Linked DNA regions of Homo sapiens. The protein of the gene in region 1 purifies or fractionates together with the protein of each later gene. This does not show direct contact. Each region holds a gene or a part of one and is shown on either strand. Other genes may lie near its edges. The genes, in order: ENPP4, SLC29A2, MANBA, NUCB2 and THOP1.

Region 1 (3,519 bases):
CCAGTGGTGCATTAATCTCCCAGAAGCCATCGCGATTGTTATCGGTTCACTCTTGGTGTTAACCATGCTAACATGCCTCATAATAATCATGCAGAATAGACTTTCTGTACCTCGTCCATTTTCTCGACTTCAGCTACAAGAAGATGATGATGATCCTTTAATTGGGTGACATGTGCTAGGGCTTATACAAAGTGTCTTTGATTAATCACAAAACTAAGAATACATCCAAAGAATAGTGTTGTAACTATGAAAAAGAATACTTTGAAAGACAAAGAACTTAGACTAAGCATGTTAAAATTATTACTTTGTTTTCCTTGTGTTTTGTTTCGGTGCATTTGCTAATAAGATAACGCTGACCATAGTAAAATTGTTAGTAAATCATTAGGTAACATCTTGTGGTAGGAAATCATTAGGTAACATCAATCCTAACTAGAAATACTAAAAATGGCTTTTGAGAAAAATACTTCCTCTGCTTGTATTTTGCGATGAAGATGTGATACATCTTTAAATGAAAATATACCAAAATTTAGTAGGCATGTTTTTCTAATAAATTTATATATTTGTAAAGAAAACAACAGAAATCTTTATGCAATTTGTGAATTTTGTATATTAGGGAGGAAAAGCTTCCTATATTTTTATATTTACCTTTAATTAGTTTGTATCTCAAGTACCCTCTTGAGGTAGGAAATGCTCTGTGATGGTAAATAAAATTGGAGCAGACAGAAAAGATATAGCAAATGAAGAAATATTTTAAGGAAACCTATTTGAAAAAAAAAGCAAAGACCATTTGATAAAAGCCTGAGTTGTCACCATTATGTCTTAAGCTGTTAGTCTTAAAGATTATTGTTAAAAAATTCAGAAGAAAAGAGAGACAAGTGCTCTTCTCTCTATCTATGCTTAATGCCTTTATGTAAGTTACTTAGTTGTTTGCGTGTGCCTGTGCAAGTGTGTTTGTGTGTGGTTGTGTGGACATTATGTGATTTACTATATAAGGAGGTCAGAGATGGACTGTGGCCAGGCTTCCACATTCCTGAAGCACACAGATCTCAGGAAAGGTTATTTTTGCACTTCATATTTGTTTACTTTCTCCTAACTCACAAGTTAAAATCATAACTTAATTTCATTAACTTTTATCATTTAACTCTCTCATGTTTGTTGTAACCTGAGGTATCCAAATGCTACAGAAAAATTTATGACCCAAATACAAATCTCAATTTGACTGGGACAGAATGAGGAATGGAGATTTTTGTATTTATCTTTGGGACTTTATGCCTTACTTTTTAGGCTATAGAATAGTTAAGAAATTTTAAACAAAATTTAGTATCTTTTGGTCTTTCACACCATTCATATGTTAAGTGGCAGAATAGCCTTAGTGCTACCTCCACTTTTTTCTCCAGTATTTGCATCACAGAAATAATCCCTCTGTTTAACATGTTTGTTCAGAGCCAAGGGTTTATTGTGAAGAACTGTCATCCTGCCTTTGCTAGCTGGTACCTTCTAGTAATCAAAATTAATATGAAGAAACTAGGTTGTGACAGACTAGATTATATTTAGTAGGGGAAAAATTGGGCTCAAGAACCATTCATCAGTACGTGAGACAAGCAGTTAATAGTATGATCTTTAAAGTTTTGACAATATAAAATAAACTTGGTAACTGTTTTACAAATATAAAAGTATAATAAATATGCAGCCCAGTTAAATATTGATTATCTGTGATGGTAAAGAACAACAGTGGTGCCAGTCATCAAACATACAGTGCGTCCTATTGAGTCACTGCTAATTTCTTGAGCCTGGTATTTGCTGCCTATTGTATTTGTGGTTGTTGAGAGGCATTTTCAAACCCTGTATAAATAATCCATGCTGTTGGTCATAAGTTAACTGTATTAAGAACAGTAAAATAAATAAAAACCAATAGTACTAATTTTGCTTTAAAAAAATTTCTAATTTTTTTCACATAAAACAATTATCCTAAAGGTTAATAGTTGATCGAAACAGAATAATAGAAAAATTCTACTTTAATTTCCATTAAAAAGCAAATAGCATTGACACATTTAAAGCTTTTCATTTAAAGTAGTGGATGTTTTTGAAGTATCTAAAATAGTAGCAGAATATTTTATACTTGGTCCTTGCAATGGTGTGAGTTTTAATGATTGCATTATCGTGATTGGTGGTTATGAGTTTCAGAAATCTATACTTGGCATCCAACTCATGAGTGGATTTTATATAGGATGGAACAGGAAGGTATGTCCTGTCAGTATCTTAACCCTTTCAACAAGACATTTACCTATTTGTCTTTCCTTACGTTCTCAAAATATTAACTCGAATTGTAAATTAAGCAAAAATTTAAAAAGTATATGTTGATGGGACAAGAAGAATAGTATTTATTTAATAAAACATATATTATATTGAACTATGTGTTAATTCATTTGTATCTTTTAAAAAATTATCACTGTTAAAGCCATTGACTCCTTTAGTACACTGAGAAAAATCTTATAGTAAAACTAGCCTTTCACATTAAGGTTTTGGTGTGTATTTTGTTAAATAACTAACATGCTGCTCTATTTTCTGGGTGTAGAAAGTATTTGGCTCTAGGAAACATTTACTTGTTTGTGAAAACAATACCCCAAGGTAATAGGAAAAGTTTGAGTTAAGTGTTTTTAATTCAGTCAGTGAATTCAGAATAAGTACATTCATGTATAACATAGGGACAGTTCTGCTGCTGTTATTTATATGCAATTCTTCTGGTAAATAGCAATAGAATAAAACATATTTCAATGTTTGTGTATAGGTTTTATATTATTATTCCACTAGGAATGGCATAAGAATTTATAGATAAATTCTTGTAACATTAAAGGATTAAAATGTTTTTACATTGTTTTTGGGTGTCTCCTTCTTGTGCCCATATCTGATAAGCTTTATGGATTATTGCATTTAATTCCTTTTATTTGGAGGGTTTTACTTCCTTGTTAACATATAAAGTTATAAATGAAGGACAAGGAGGAGATGGAAAATGTGTATTTATTGTTAATTCTTAAAATAGTGTGTAAATAAAATAACATCAGTGTGCTTTAAAGAAATGTGTATGTAGTGCCTTAATTTAAATTAAAATATTTTTGACTGTTACTTGAGTTCAGAATTAATGACTTTGTTCATGATTTTTAAAATGTGTGTGAATAAAATCTACCAAAAAATTCTTACTGTAATTATTAAATATAAAGTTCAGTGTCACTGGTGATTTTTACATTTGTTACCTTCTTGCAAAATATACTTACTGTGCTAGATGTTGACATGACTTAGTAATATTATAGAAGCCCACATAGGTGTTTATTAGGATTTTTTAACTCTTTAACAAAAAGTTTAAAACAGTGTGTAAGTATACAATCCAGCATAAGAACATCATTGGAAAGAAAGCCAAGATAAGTTTTATAGAACCTCCAGAGCTATGATTTATTGGCTTATGGTAGAAGAGAAGAGGTTTGAAAAAAACCGATTATAAAATAGTGGGGATGGTAGGGGAAG
Region 2 (3,389 bases), on another chromosome or scaffold:
TGGCTGAGCACCTAATATCTAATAGGTGCTCAGTGAATGTTCACAAAGGCAGGTGGGCAGAAAACCCTTGCTTTTCTCTGGGACGGGCAGGGTAGTATAGGTGTGTGGTGAAGCAGGCCTTTCCTCCATCCGTGTGTAGAATTGGTGGGGTCGCCAAAGCCCTGCCCACACTGACTGCCTCTCTAAGGCCAGATTTCCAAGGAGGAGCTATCCTGGGGAGGCAGAGGATGCTGGTGAGAGCCCAGGGGCTCATGGAGTGGGAGAGCAATAGTTGTCCATCCAACTAGGTGCTCTGCCCAGGAGCTCAGGATTCCTTGCAGGTCAGTACCCCCCAGCTATCATGTGGTCCAGAGGACCCAGCACAGAGATGCCCACCAATCCCTACCCCTCTCAGGGCCTCAGTCATCCCACCTGTCAAGGGGGTACAATCTTTCCGACCCCACCCAGTTCACTGAGGCCAATAGAGCCAACAGCACTTCGGAAATAAAGACTTGGTGAACGCATCATACAAATAAATGGGGTTATTAGACCCAAGAGCAGGGTCAGAAGGAGAAACAGCAAAAACGGGGAGTAAGTGCCCAGGCTCCTGCCCCAAACCCCTTGAGGAAAAGAGAAACAGGTGTTGGGCAGGAAGAACAGCACCAACAGGGAGGAGAGAGAGGGGATTGGGTCCCGGCTCTACCACGGACCAGTCACTTTCCCCAGGACTCAGTTTTGTCACCTGTATAATGGGGGAAGCACAATCCTTGCCTGACTCCTTCCAAGAGCCTCAATTAGGCTTCGGTGAGAGAGTGGGTATGGAAGAGCTTTGCAAACTGTAAAGTGCAGTACACACATGCAGGCTAGCTGTGGCCCTGGGGCCCAGGCCCAGCTGGGCTCTGCGGAGTGGGTACAGTAAGTGTTGGCAATGAAAACACTGCTTGAGGCTGAGCCTGGCCCTTTGAGCACCCTCAGGTCCTCCACATCTGTTCCTCCTCTCAGGTGCCCACAACTTCCCTGGCACCTTTTACCCTGGGTGGCTGAGGCCTGGGAAGATGAGGCGCTCCTGGCCTGGGCTGGCCCCGCCTCCCACTCTGAACCCTCTGGTCACCTCTGCTCCTGATGATGATGAACAAATGCAGACCTGGTGGTGGGGAGCAGCCGTGCCCTGCACCCTCTTTTCCCTAGTCATCACCCTTTCCATGAGGTCTTGTGCGAGTCACCCCCATTCCTGGGTGAGGGTTAGAATGACCGGTGGTGATTTCTTCCCCACAGCACTCCAAGTGGATGAAGAGCAGCTCCTGCCCGCTGCTGGCAGCCTCAGGCCCAGGGGCCTCCACCCCGCAGAGGCCTGAGCCAAGCTCGCCATTCGCCCTGGGCTGGATCTCAGCTCCGGAAGGAGACGTCGAGAAGAGGCTGCCAAAGAGCCTGGAGGGGCCACTTCAGAGCAGCGCCTTGAAGAGGAAGGAGAGGGAGGCTCCACAGGAAAGTCCCAGGGCCAGGAAGAAGGTCATGAGGGCGCCGGCCACCTCCCTCTCGTGTGGCAGCACCTGCCTAGAACACCCGGGAACAGGAGCTCTTAGAAAATGCTGGGTCTAAATCTGGACCCAGCTCCACTGCCCTCTGCCCATCCAGTCTGGGCTCTGACCCAACCCCTCTGTCACCATAACTGGCCCCTTCTTTCCGGGCCTCAGTTTCCTGGTCTGTAAATGAGGCTGCTGGATAAGGATGTCTCTCAGGGCCTCTGAGTCTAACATGATGGGATTCCAGATTCCACAGCCTGCCCTTTCCACAGTGCTCTCAGCCTGTCTGCCCTGCCAGCTTCATTCTCTCTGGATTCTCCACTCCATTGCCCCTTGAGGAAATAGCCCATGACCTTGTTTTTGGTCAAAACCTTAGCTCTCCTTCAACTGAGAATTTTACAGTTAGATGGGCCCTGAGGGATGACAGTTCAACCCATTTTTTTTTACAGATGGGGAAACTGAGGCACATTGAGGCGGCCCCAGAACCAGTGCCTGGGCTACTTGGTTGGGCGGGTACCTCCCTAGCCCAGTTCTCTCCCCTGCAGTTAAGGCTTGGCCCAGTAGGGGGCGCCAGCAAGGCCTGCAGACAGCTAGGGTTGGGCTGGCCAGAAGCAGGATGGGCCGTCCCTCCATTGCAGGCGGTCCCTTCCCAAAGACTGAACCCACCTCCCTACTCCCAGCCCCCCACCCCACCCCATTGCCCCGGACCTGGGCGCCAGGCACATGGTGAGGGACACCAGGTAGCCATTAGAAACGGCAAAGAGCAGCATGAAGGTGATGAAGTAGGCATCCTGTGGGAAGAGGATGGGCAGCCGGGACCTCTGGGGCACGTGGCACAGCATGAAGAGGGGCACGAACAGGAACCGCAGGCAGACCAGCAGGGGCAGCAGCCGGCTGTCCTCGTCTGGCTGTGGTAGAAGCTGAAGTCAGCATGGTCCCTGGAGCCAGGTCTCTGCTCCAGGGCATCTCAGGACACCCATAGAGTACTTTTTTTTTTTTTTTTTTTAGATGGAGTCTCGCTCTGTTGCCCAGGCTGGAGTGCAGTGGCCCTGATCTCAGCTCACTGCAACCTCCACCTCCTGGGTTCAAGAAATCCTCCTGCTTCAGCCTCCTGAGTAGCTGGGACTATAGGCGCCTGCCACCACCATGCCCAGATAATTTTTATATTTTTAGTAGAGCCAGGTTTCATCATGTTGGCCAGGCTGGTCTCGAACTTCTGACCTCGAGTGTTCCACCTGCCTCAGCCTCCCAAAGTGCTGGGATTACAGGCGTGAGCCACCATACCCGGCCTCTATTTTTTTCATTAAAAATTTGTGTGTGTGTGTGTGTACAGACAAAGTCTCACTGTGTTGCCCAGGCTGGTTTTGAACTCCTGAGCTCAAGCGATCCTCTTGCCTTGGCCTCCCAAAGTGCTCGGATTTTAGGGGTTTTTTTGTTTGTTTGTTTTTGAGACAGAGTCTCGCTCTGTCTCCCAGGCTGGAGAGCAGTGGTGCGATCTCGGCTCACTGCAGCCTCTGCCTCCCTGGGATTACAGGTGTGCACCACCACACCTGCTAATTGTTATCTTTTTAGTAGAGACGGGGTTTCACCATGTTGGCCAGGCTGGTCTCGAACTCCTGACCTCGTGATCCACCCGCCTCGGCCTCCCAGAGTGCTGGGATTACAGGTGTGAGCCACCGCGTCCAGCCCCAGAGTGCTAGGATTATAGGTGTGAGCCACCACGCCTGGCCCACCCATAGGATAGACCCATCTGTCACCCCCTGACCTCCTCTGACCTGACCTACCTTGTGAGCCAGTGAGGGAGGACCCAGCACTGGGGCCTGGGCCAAGTCCACCCAGAAATCAGGGACTGGCCTGGGGCTCACCTCTGCCTCTCCCAGGCTCCAG
Region 3 (3,519 bases), on another chromosome or scaffold:
TTTAAAAAGCCACTAAACATGGTTTATAGAAACCTGTTTAATGCAGGTAAGAGCATCACAATACATTAAATGTGAAAGAGTTGTTATTTATTTTATTTTATTTATTTATTTTTTTTTTTGAGATGTAGTCTTGCTCTGTCACCCAGGCTGGAGTGCAGTGGCGTGATCTTGGCTCATTGCAAGCTCCACCTCCCGGGTTCATGCCATTCTTCTGCCTCAGCCTCCCGAGTAGCTGGGACTACAGGTGCTGGCCACCACGCCGGACTAATTTTTTGTATTTTTAGTAGAGACGGGGTTTCACCGTATTAGCCAGGATGGTCTCGATCTCCCGACCTCGTGATCTGCCGCCTTGGCCTCCCAAAGTGCTGGAATTACAGGCGTGAGCCACTGTGCCTGCCCAAGAGTTGTTAAGCTGTATATTTAATACTTATAAAAGTGTATGCATTAAAAAAATTAGAATGGATGCACTGAATTTTTACTTTAATAGTGGTTATCCTGCTCAATGAAATAAAAGAGAACACAAACAAATGCAAGAACATTCCATGCTCATGGATAGGAAGAATTAATATCATGAAAATGGCCATACTGCCCAAGGTGATTTATAGATTCAACGCCATCCCCATCAAGCTACCAATGACTTTCTTCACAGAATTGGAAAAAACTACTTTAAAGTTCATATGGAACCCAAAAAAAGCCCACATTGCCAAGACACTCCTAAGCCAAAAGAACAAAGCTGGAGGCATCACGTTACCTGACTTCAAACTATACTACAAGGCTACAGTAACCAAAACAGCATGGTACTGGTACCAAAATAGAGATATAGACCAATGGAACAGAACAGAGCCCTCAGAAATAATACCACACATCTACAACCATCTGATCTTTGACAAAGCTGACAAAAACAAGAAATAGGGAAAGGATTCCCTATTTAATAAATGGTGCTGGGAAAACTGGCTAGCCAAATGTAGAAAGCTGAAACTGGATTCCTTCCTTATACCTTATACAAAAATTAATTCAAGATGGATTAAAGACTTAAATGTTAGACCTAAAACCATAAAAACCCTAGAAGAAAACCTAGGCAATACCATTCAGGACATAGGCATGGGCAAGGACTTCATGACTAAAACACCAAAAGCAATGGCAACAAAAGCCAAACTTGACAAATGGGATCTAATTAAACTAGAGAGCTTCTGCACAGCAAAAGAAACTACCATCAGAGTGAACAGGCAACCTACAGAATAGGAGAAAATTTTTACAATCTATCCATCTGACAAAGGGCTAATTAATCCACAATCTACAAAGAACTTCAACAAATTTACAAGAAAAAATCAAACAACCCCATCAAAAAGTGGGCAAAGGATATGAACAGACACTTCTCAAAAGAAGACATTTATGCAGCCAAAAGACACATGAAAAAATGCTCATCATCACTGGCCATCAGAGAAATGCAAATCAAAACCACAATGAGATACCATCTCACACCAGTTAGAATGGTGATCATTAAAAAGTCAGTAAACAACAGGTGCTGGAGAGGATGTGGAGAAATAGGAACACTTTTACACTGTTGGTGGGACTATAAACTATTTCAACCATTGTGGAAGACAGTGTGGCAATTCCTCAAGGATTTAGAACTAGAAATACCATTTGACCCAGCCATCCCATCACTGGGTATATACCCAAAGTATTATAAATCATGCTACTATAAAGACACATGCACATGTATGTTTACTGCAGCACTATTCACAATAGCAAAGACTTGTAACCAACCCAAATGTCCAACAATGATAGACTGGATTAAGAAAATGTGGCACATATACACCATGGAATACCTTGCAGCCATAAAAAAGGATGAGTTCATGTCCTTTGTAGGGACATGGATGAAGCTGCAAACCATCATTCTGAGCAAACTATCACAAGGACAGAAAACCAAACACCACATGCTCTCATTCATAGTGGGAATTGAACAATGAGAACACTTGGGCACAGGATGGGGAACATCACACACTGGGACCTGTCATGAGGTTGGGGGCTGGGGGAGGGATAGCATTAGGAGATATACCTAATGTAAATGAGGTTAACGGGTCAACGGGTGCAGCACACCAACATGGCACATGTATACATATGTAACAAACCTGCACGTTGTGCACATGTACCCTAGAACTTAAAGTATAACAAAAAAAGGGAAAAAATAAAAAATAAAAATAAATAAATATATAAAACTGTTGGGGGCATTAGTCACATGAACAGCTGTCAAAAAAAATAGTGGTTATCTCTGGGAGTGATGTTTCCAACCTTCTTCTTACTTATCTATATATTTTAATGTTGGCATACAGAGACTATCTAAAAAAAAAAAAAAAAAAAAAAAAGAAGCAGTTGCTTCAAAACTTACACCAGTGAGAAATTCCACAGAAAAGCTGAGAACATTCCTAACAAGGGTCCCTTTATGTATGCACTTAACATAACATATGGAAATTATTTAGTTTTCTGCCTCACTAAAGTGGCCTCCCACAAAATAGGAACTATAGTCTCACTCTCAATTTCTTTTTTTATTCCTAATGCCTATTACACTGTGTGGCATAATAGCAGGCTGAGGGCCAGGCACGGTGGCTCATGCCTGTAATTCCAGCACTTTGGAAGGCCGAGGCAGGTGGATGGCCTGAGGTTGGGAGTTCAAGACCAGCCTGACCAACATGGAGAAAGCTTGTCTCTACTAAAAGTACAAAATTAGCCAGGCATGGTGGCACATGCCTGTAATCCCAGCTACCTGGGAGACTGAGGCAGGAGAATCTCTTGAACCCAGGAGGCAGAGGTTGCGGTGAGCCGAGATAGTACCATTGCATTCCAGCCTGGGCAACAAGAGCGAAACTCCGTCTCAAAAAAAAAAAAATAGCAGGCTGAAGGAATAACTTTTCACAGAGAACCCAAAAGACTCTCTAAGAAACCAAAGGTTTAGATTCTGTACAGAAAACCCAGAGAATCACCTAGGAAATAGCCAAGACTAGCCACAGAATCTCTCACTAAATACAAATTTCATTTAACCAGCTCAGATAAAAAAAATCCTGGTATTTTCCTGCACCTCCCCCTTCTGTCTCCCAATCCATTAACAAATCCAACTGAAGAAATCCTCTTGTTTCTACATGTAAAACGTGTTCTCACAACCATTCTCACCATTTCACTGCCACCATGCTTGTCCAAGCCAGAAGTCATCTCTTGCCCATACATAGACCAGCAATAGTCCCCTGGTTGGTCTCCAGGCTTCCACTCTCCTGCACTGTAGCCTTCACACAACAGAGTGACCTTTAAAAAGGCAAATCTAATCATGCTACTCTAAGCTCAAAGCCTCCAATAACTTCCCATCACATGTAGAATAAAAGCCAAAGTGTTTCCTATGGCTCACAGCCTTTCATGATGTGCCCTAGACTTTGAACTCCTCTCCTACCCTCTGGTTCCCAGGTCTCCAGCCACACTGGCCTGCTGACTATTCCTGAAACTTGTCAAGCTCGTGCCTGCCTCAGGGCC
Region 4 (3,519 bases), on another chromosome or scaffold:
GACAGGCAATAGGAAGAAGGAGAACTAACCTACTTTTCTTCCACTATCAGGTCAGTAAGAATGGCCTTCTCCTTTCCTTTATCACCCTCTTCTTTCATAAGAGAGATACGGACCTAAAGAGGAGACACTGGGCTGAACCAGGCTGAAACAGTAGACTCATCCAAACCAGGACAGGCTGATAATTTACTCTCTAAAGTAGGATGGTGTGAAATTCTAAATTATGTAGTCATCTCAAGACAGAATGGGAGGCACTGACCCCAAAGGCATCAGAGCCTCTGGTAAAATTACAAAGTAAGCAGAGTTCTTAAGCTTCTCTTAGTATTCAGTAGATATAATTTCCTTAAATTTTAAAGTCCTAAAAGAAAGCTAATCTCTCTTCCCCTGTCTCAACCAAGTCAAAATTTCTATTCTGCTGGGCACGGAGGTTCCTGCCTATAATCCCAGCACTTTGTGAGGACAAGGAGGGTGGATTCCTTGAGCCCAGGAGTTCAAGACCAGCCTGAGCAATATGGTGAAACCTCTGTCTCTACAAAAAATACAAAAATTAGTTGGGCATGGTGGCACATGCCTGTAGTCCCAGCTACTTGGTGGGGGATGAGGTGGGAAGATCACCTGAGCCCAGCAGGTTGAGGCTGCAGTGAGCCATGGTCACGCCACAGCACTCTAGCCAGGGTGACAGAGTGAGAACATGTCTCAAAAAATAAAATTTCCATTCATACACAGAGGCAGATTTCTTAGCTACTGATTTATACCCATAGTTATACAGATTAAGTTTGCTTTGTGTGTGTGTGTGTGTGTGTGTGTGTGTGTGTACGCACACGTGCGCGCATGTATGTGTGATGGTTTCCTGTTTTGATTGTTGGGCAAGATATCCTGGAAGTGGTTAAAAAAAATTACCATAGATAACCAGGGTGAAAAGTACAGAAAACTGAAAATTTTCTCTTTCCTTGGAAGTAGTCTCTGTTCCTCCTTTATATATCTTTTTTTTTTTTTTTTTTTTTTTGAGACGGAGTCTCACTCTGTCACCCAGGCTGGAGTGCAGTGGCGCGATCTTGGCTCACTGCAAACTCCGCCTCCCGGGTTCACACCATTCTCCTGCCTCAGCCTCCTGAGTAGCTGGGACTACAGGTGCCCGCCACCACGCCCAGCTAATTTTTTTTTTTTTTTTTTGAGACAGTGTCTCGCTCTGTTGCACAGGCTGGAGTGCAGTAGTGCAATCTCAGCTCACTGCAACCTCCGCCTCCTGGGTTTAAGCAATTCTCCTGCCTCAGCCTCCTAAGTAGCTGGGACTACAGGCGCATGCCACCATGCCTGGCTAATTTTTTGTGTTTTTTTTAGTAAAGACAGGGTTTCACCATGTTGTCCAGGCTGGTCTCGATCTCTTGACCTCGTGATCCGCCCGCCTCGGCCTCCCAAAGTGCTGGGATTATAGGCGTGAGCCACCTCACCCAGCCACGCCCGGCTAATTTTTTTGTATGTTTTTAGTAGAGACGGGGTTTCACCATGTTAGCCAGGATGGTCTTGATCTCCTGACCTTGTGATCTGCCCGCCTTGGCCTCCCAAAGTGCTGGGATTACAGGCATGAGCCACCGCGCCCAGCCTCTTTTATGTATCTTTTTCCATCTTCCTCAACCCTCTTCTTTTGCCCCTCTTCCTTTTCAATTAATGGCTGAATTGAAGCATGTTTCCTTTAACCTATTATAAGTATGTATGTATGTATGTATGTATGTATTGAGACTTTGTTTCTAAAAACAAAACTAAACTAATATTTATGTATTAAGTAATGACTATGGTACCAGATACTATGCTAGAAGACAAAGGTAAGCGAGATCGACATAGTCCTTACCCTCACAGGGCTTCAATCTAGTGAGGAAGGTAAGCTATTAAATACAATTGCAATTTTTAAAATGCTGCTTACAAAACAATGCATAGCATGATACTTTTCTGTTAATTAAAAAAAATTAAAAGTCATGAAAATGGTATTCACCAAACAGACATTCTCAGTCAGGTGATTTATAACGTTAAATGTCTCTTAAAAACTGGGTTGTTTTTATGGTCACAAGTCTCCTGATTATTTTGTTTGAGGTCAACAAGTCTAGATCAGAAAAAAGGAAACTGCAATACTAGCAGCAAAAGAACTACTGTACTTTGTGCCTATCTAATACAACCAAAAAATGTAAAAACTTTCAAAAATACAAATATACTGTGTAGAAATAAAATCTTAACTTACTGTCTCCCTTCTAAAAACTCTAAAAGATTGACTGAATCTTTAGAATCTTTCTCACTCCAATTTCCATTCCCTGAATTTCTTTTTCTCAAAGCTATTTATTTCAGTTTACTTTTGAAATAGAAATAATGACAATTGAACCATTTTGCAGGACAAGTATAGGGTATATTTATATAATATTCACAAAGAAAAGTCTGGAAGGGGCTGGGCACGGTGGCTCACTCCTGTAATCCCATCACTGTAGGGGGCTGAGGCAGGCAGATCACCTGAGGTCAGGAGTTCAAGACCACCCTGGCCAACATGGTGAGACCCCATCTCTACTAAAAATACAAAAATTAGTTGGGTGTGGTGGTGGATGCCTGTAGTCCCAGCTACTGAGGAGGCTGAGGCAGGAGAATCGCTTGAACATAGGAGGCAGAGGTTGCACTAAGCCATTGCACTCCAGCGTGGGTGAAAGAGTGAGACTCCGTCTCAACAAAAAAAATAAAAGTCTGGAAGGAAATAAAATATTGGTGTGGCTAAATAAGTTAAGCAAGAACTAGTAGTAAGAGAAAATTTCAAGACAACTAACAGTTAAGTGGTTAAAAAAAGAAGAAAGGAAAGAAAAAGAACAAACTACTTTTAGCTAGCAAGGAAGGCAAGTGTTCCTCATGTGACCATAGTGAAATGTATCTTGAGATGAATTATATTTACTTTCAATATAAATTTACTTCCTGATGATTAGTTATGTGATACCCTTGGGATAACTTATCTCTGTCATTTTAGTGCCTTGATTATAGCAAGTAGCTCAATAAATGTTAGCTCTTTTTAACACAACCATAAAATGTACAACAAACATCTATTGAGCATTTATGGGTAATTTTAAAAAATAACCAGAACAAATCCACAAATAAGACAGAAAAGCTTCTATAATGAATTAAGGGCTAAAAGTAAAAACAGAAACACAATTTATTACATGAAGATTATTTCCTTCTGTAGTTAATAGTCAGACTTATATCTCTGCCATGGCAAATTATAGAAGCTTCTATGAGTGGTTATCACAGCTTACAGATTTCAGAGCTGAAAGATAAAAAGATTCATATCATGGCAGACACTTCTATTTGCTTGCCAATATCCAAATCTTTCCTTCCTTCTCAGTAACAAAAGCCCAATTTTATAGAGGGCAGACATGCAGTCAGCTACATTTCCCTGCTTTCTTATAGCCTCAGCCTTGGTTCAGGAATTCTCCTTAAAGGAAGAGGATGCATCTTTCTTCGCCTATGCTTTGCTGCCTGGAACATGACAGTGATGGT
Region 5 (3,421 bases), on another chromosome or scaffold:
GCACTGAGGGGCCAGCAGAGCCCCGAACTCCCCAAACTCCCGAGGTGGCTCCCGCCATCAGCCCCCACTGAAATCCCAGGCTGAGCCCATGAACAGAAGTGGCTGAGCCTCCGGCTGGACAATGTGGAAGCCGCTCGCGCTCTGGGCCGCCCTAAAGGCCCAGGTTTGAGCCCAGCCCTGTGACTGCGGGACTACGGGCAGGTGAGGCAGATGAGACTGCGAGGCGCCGGTGCCAGCCACCAAGGAGACCCCGACGCCCCAGAGCCCCGCAGGAGCCTGCGCGGACTGCAGGCTGCAGAGCCAGGGAGCCACAGTCCCAGCTCCCACCCGGGGGACTCCACCTCTACAGCCCCCGGCCGGTCCTCAGAGGTGGGACCCCCTCACCTCAGCAGCAGGGGGAGCTGCTGGAGGCTGCCTCAGGAGGGGGGAGGTCCCTGCTGGGCTGTGAAGACAGGGGGCTTGTCGGACCATTGCTCCCCCAGGTCCTGGCCTCTGCACCTCTATAAAGGGAGCAGCTGAGTGCCTGCTTGGTGGCTCCGAGGTACCTGCAGGCTGCCCAGTGCAATGTTGCACCCAGGCAGGGCAGGGCCGGCCCTCAAAGCTGGTAGCCACCTGTTCCTTGTGAGGGACTCTGGCGGCTGTCCCGAGCCTGGGTCACACCAAGTCAGCGGGAGGCACAGGCTCACATGGCGTAACGGCCGCACTTCATAGTGAGGAAACTGGAGGTTGGAGGAGCAAATGAATGGCAAACGCCAAGCCTTCTCCAGAGAAGGGTCTGTCTCAGCCCATGGCTCTGAGGCCGATCACGCAGATCCCGGAAGGACTCGTATGGGAAGACACGGAGCTCCCAGCACTCACAGCCCGAGGCCTGAGGGGCCAGTGTGGAGCTTCCTGCAGGGCCCAGGGAGGAGCTGTGGGCAGCACCGCACCAAGACCAGCAGGTGCCTCGGCCGGGATGGCTCACCCGGCACACCCAGGCCCAGGCCAAAGGTGTGCTTTTCTCGGCCCCACCCTGCTGTTGAGGACGCCCTCCCTGTCCCCAGTCCCCGCGTACCTTGCCGTTCAGGACGCCCTCCCTGTCCCCAGTCCCCGCGTACCTTGCCATTCAGGACGCCCTCCCTGTCCCCAGTCCCCGCGTACCTTGCCGTTCAGGACGCCCTCCCTGTCCCCAGTCCCCGCGTACCTTGCTGTTCAGGACACCCTCCTGCTTGAAGCGCGTGTGGAACATGTCCATGGAATACACCTCGCTCCACAGGTACCCGTAGTACTGGGCGTCGTAGCCACCTGCCAGATGGCCGAAGGTTGCAGGCATGTTGGTTCCTGGGGCGGACACATGGCAGGGTTCACGCTGTAGCCCCCACCCCATGCTCCTCCTCCAGGAGAAGACAACCAGCCAGACTCCTGAGACCCCTGCCCGGAACAGGGAGAAGCTGGAGGATCACGGTGAGGGCCGAGACCAGCTGGATACTTCTAGAACCAGAGTCAGCCACAAAGCGAGGGCCACAAGTCTCCGCCCCCTCTCCTGGAAGGACAGGAGCTCATTTAACGGGGCTGTCAGCTGCCACAGAGCAAAGTCCCCATTTTGAGACTGCGTCAATAAAGCAAGGCACGCCCACGCAACATCACAGGCCACGCTGCTGAAAACGCTTTTGGAAAGATTTTTGAAGTCTATGGAGTGTTAAGCCAGCAAAACACCACCCATGTTAAAATCATGCTGTATTTCCAAATTCTGGATCCTCGCAAGCGTGTGTGAACACACATGCACACAGGACAACAGGTGAGCATGGAAACAGGGCCCACTTCTCATCATTAGGATCGGAAATTCCTAGGCCTTCCTGTACTTCTCCAGGCTTTTTACAAAGCATGTGTCATACATTTCAATCAGGAAAACGCCAGCTTCATTCAAAGCAGAGGCTCCAGGGAACACACTCCTCCTGGGGGCTGGGGCCGCACACCCGTCCCCGACCCTGGGCCTGCAGCTGCATCTCAGCTGGGGCTGTCCCCCGAGGAGCCTGGGACGCGCTCCGTGGCTCCCCAGCAGGGACTCCTGCACTTGCTAAGTGAAGCATGGGGACCAACTCCCTTCACCTTCCCAGGGAAGCAGCTGAGGCTCCAAATTCCAGGGTGTGCCCGGCTCAAGGGTGGCTACCTGGCGTGGCCGGGACCCCGAGGATCTCCTGGCAGAGCCGCGCATACTCCTCGGCGGGGTCTGCGTCCGTCTGCGTGTGCAGGGCCTGGTCCACCTTGGCGAGGACGATCTGGCGCAGGTTGAAGAGGCCTGGGCGGGAGGGAAGGAGAGAGCTGGCCTCTGCACCTGCCCCGGCCCACTCTGCCCAGAGCTCCGACCCCCACCCGGGGCACATGCCAGGCCCCAGCTGTGTGCCGCCCCCCGAGGTTAGCACCCTTCCCCGGACGGGGCGGGTGCACCTGTGTTGGCCTGCCGGGACTCAATGAGCTTCTCCAGGAGCTCCCGGGGCACGGCGCTGCCTGTGCGGTAGTGCCGCGACATCCGCAGCAGCGGCTCCTGCTCCCACACCCAGTTCTCCAGCATCTGCGACGGCGCCTCCACAAAGTCCCGCTCCACGTGGGTCCCGCTGAACATGGCGAACTCCGCCTGCAGGGATGGGGCAGAGCCTCAGAGTGCCCAGGTCCTGCCTAGCCCGTTCCCGCCGGCCTGGCCCGTGTCAGCTGCCACAGTGCAAACAGGGCGAGTGCACAGGTGATGCGCTGGGCCCGGCCCTCCCACCCCAAAACTGGAAAACGACCGGGACCCGGAGGCCCCTGGGCTGCTGCTGGCTGCCGGTGGCAGCAGGACACACCTGAAGATGCCGGCCACATGACCCCGTCCCTGGAGGCCACCCACGCTTCTCCTCTAGCCACAGAGCTGCTGCTCCCTGAAAGCTCCGCACCCCGAGGGGTTGGGACCTGGGGACGGCCAGGTCCGGGTGGGGACGCTGTGAGGCATGCTGCATCTCCCTGCTCGTGTGTGTGTGGAACCTTCCCTAAAAGCACAGCCCTTGACTGAGTCCCGCTGGAACCATGGCAGGCAGCCAACGGCGAGGGAACTCCTGGGTGATCCTCAAGGTCCTCTCTGCAACACCGAGGCTTTTCTGTTCCAAGGACCACGCAGCCACACTCCTTGTCCCGACGGAATGCACCAAGGGACTCGCCGTGCCAGGCGCCAGGGACACGCAGAAAGCAGCATGCAAAGCAGGCCTGCAGGCACGTGCGTGGGCACCTGTGTGAGCACCTGTGTGGATGTGCACACGCGTGTGCTGGCTACGAGTGCTGTGCAAACAGTGTGGCAGGGAAGCCAGGAAAGGTGGACACACGGTCGATCCTCATTCCTGGACTCCGTGTTTTCAAACTCGCCTACTAAGATCCACAAAAACCCCAGAGGCCAGCACTGCGGCGCCCCTGA

The links.
Region 2: the proteins of ENPP4 (region 1) and SLC29A2 fractionate together in Homo sapiens (co-fractionation; one large-scale study listed by BioGRID). This does not show direct contact.
Region 3: the proteins of ENPP4 (region 1) and MANBA fractionate together in Homo sapiens (co-fractionation; one large-scale study listed by BioGRID). This does not show direct contact.
Region 4: the proteins of ENPP4 (region 1) and NUCB2 fractionate together in Homo sapiens (co-fractionation; one large-scale study listed by BioGRID). This does not show direct contact.
Region 5: the proteins of ENPP4 (region 1) and THOP1 fractionate together in Homo sapiens (co-fractionation; one large-scale study listed by BioGRID). This does not show direct contact.

The regions. Positions count from the first base shown.
Region 1 is NC_000006.12:46,143,472-46,146,990, forward strand, and holds the end of ENPP4 (bis(5'-adenosyl)-triphosphatase ENPP4 precursor), read left to right. Parts: coding exon 1-169; 3' UTR 170-3,217; downstream 3,218-3,519. UniProt on the Homo sapiens protein: Hydrolyzes extracellular Ap3A into AMP and ADP, and Ap4A into AMP and ATP. Ap3A and Ap4A are diadenosine polyphosphates thought to induce proliferation of vascular smooth muscle cells.
Region 2 is NC_000011.10:66,362,015-66,365,403, forward strand, and holds the end of SLC29A2 (equilibrative nucleoside transporter 2), read right to left. Parts: intron 2,411-3,389; coding exon 2,211-2,410; exon of another isoform or gene 1,534-2,210; coding exon 1,422-1,533; 3' UTR 507-1,421; downstream 1-506. UniProt on the Homo sapiens protein: Bidirectional uniporter involved in the facilitative transport of nucleosides and nucleobases, and contributes to maintaining their cellular homeostasis. Functions as a Na(+)-independent, passive transporter.
Region 3 is NC_000004.12:102,754,456-102,757,974, forward strand, and holds part of MANBA (beta-mannosidase precursor), read right to left. Parts: intron 1-3,519.
Region 4 is NC_000011.10:17,283,228-17,286,746, reverse strand, and holds part of NUCB2 (nucleobindin-2 isoform 1 preproprotein), read right to left. Parts: intron 114-3,519; exon of another isoform or gene 30-113; intron 1-29. UniProt on the Homo sapiens protein: Calcium-binding protein which may have a role in calcium homeostasis. Acts as a non-receptor guanine nucleotide exchange factor which binds to and activates guanine nucleotide-binding protein (G-protein) alpha subunit GNAI3.
Region 5 is NC_000019.10:2,809,497-2,812,917, reverse strand, and holds part of THOP1 (thimet oligopeptidase), read right to left. Parts: intron 2,615-3,421; coding exon 2,428-2,614; intron 2,279-2,427; coding exon 2,150-2,278; intron 1,321-2,149; coding exon 1,184-1,320; intron 1-1,183. UniProt on the Homo sapiens protein: Involved in the metabolism of neuropeptides under 20 amino acid residues long. Involved in cytoplasmic peptide degradation. Able to degrade the amyloid-beta precursor protein and generate amyloidogenic fragments.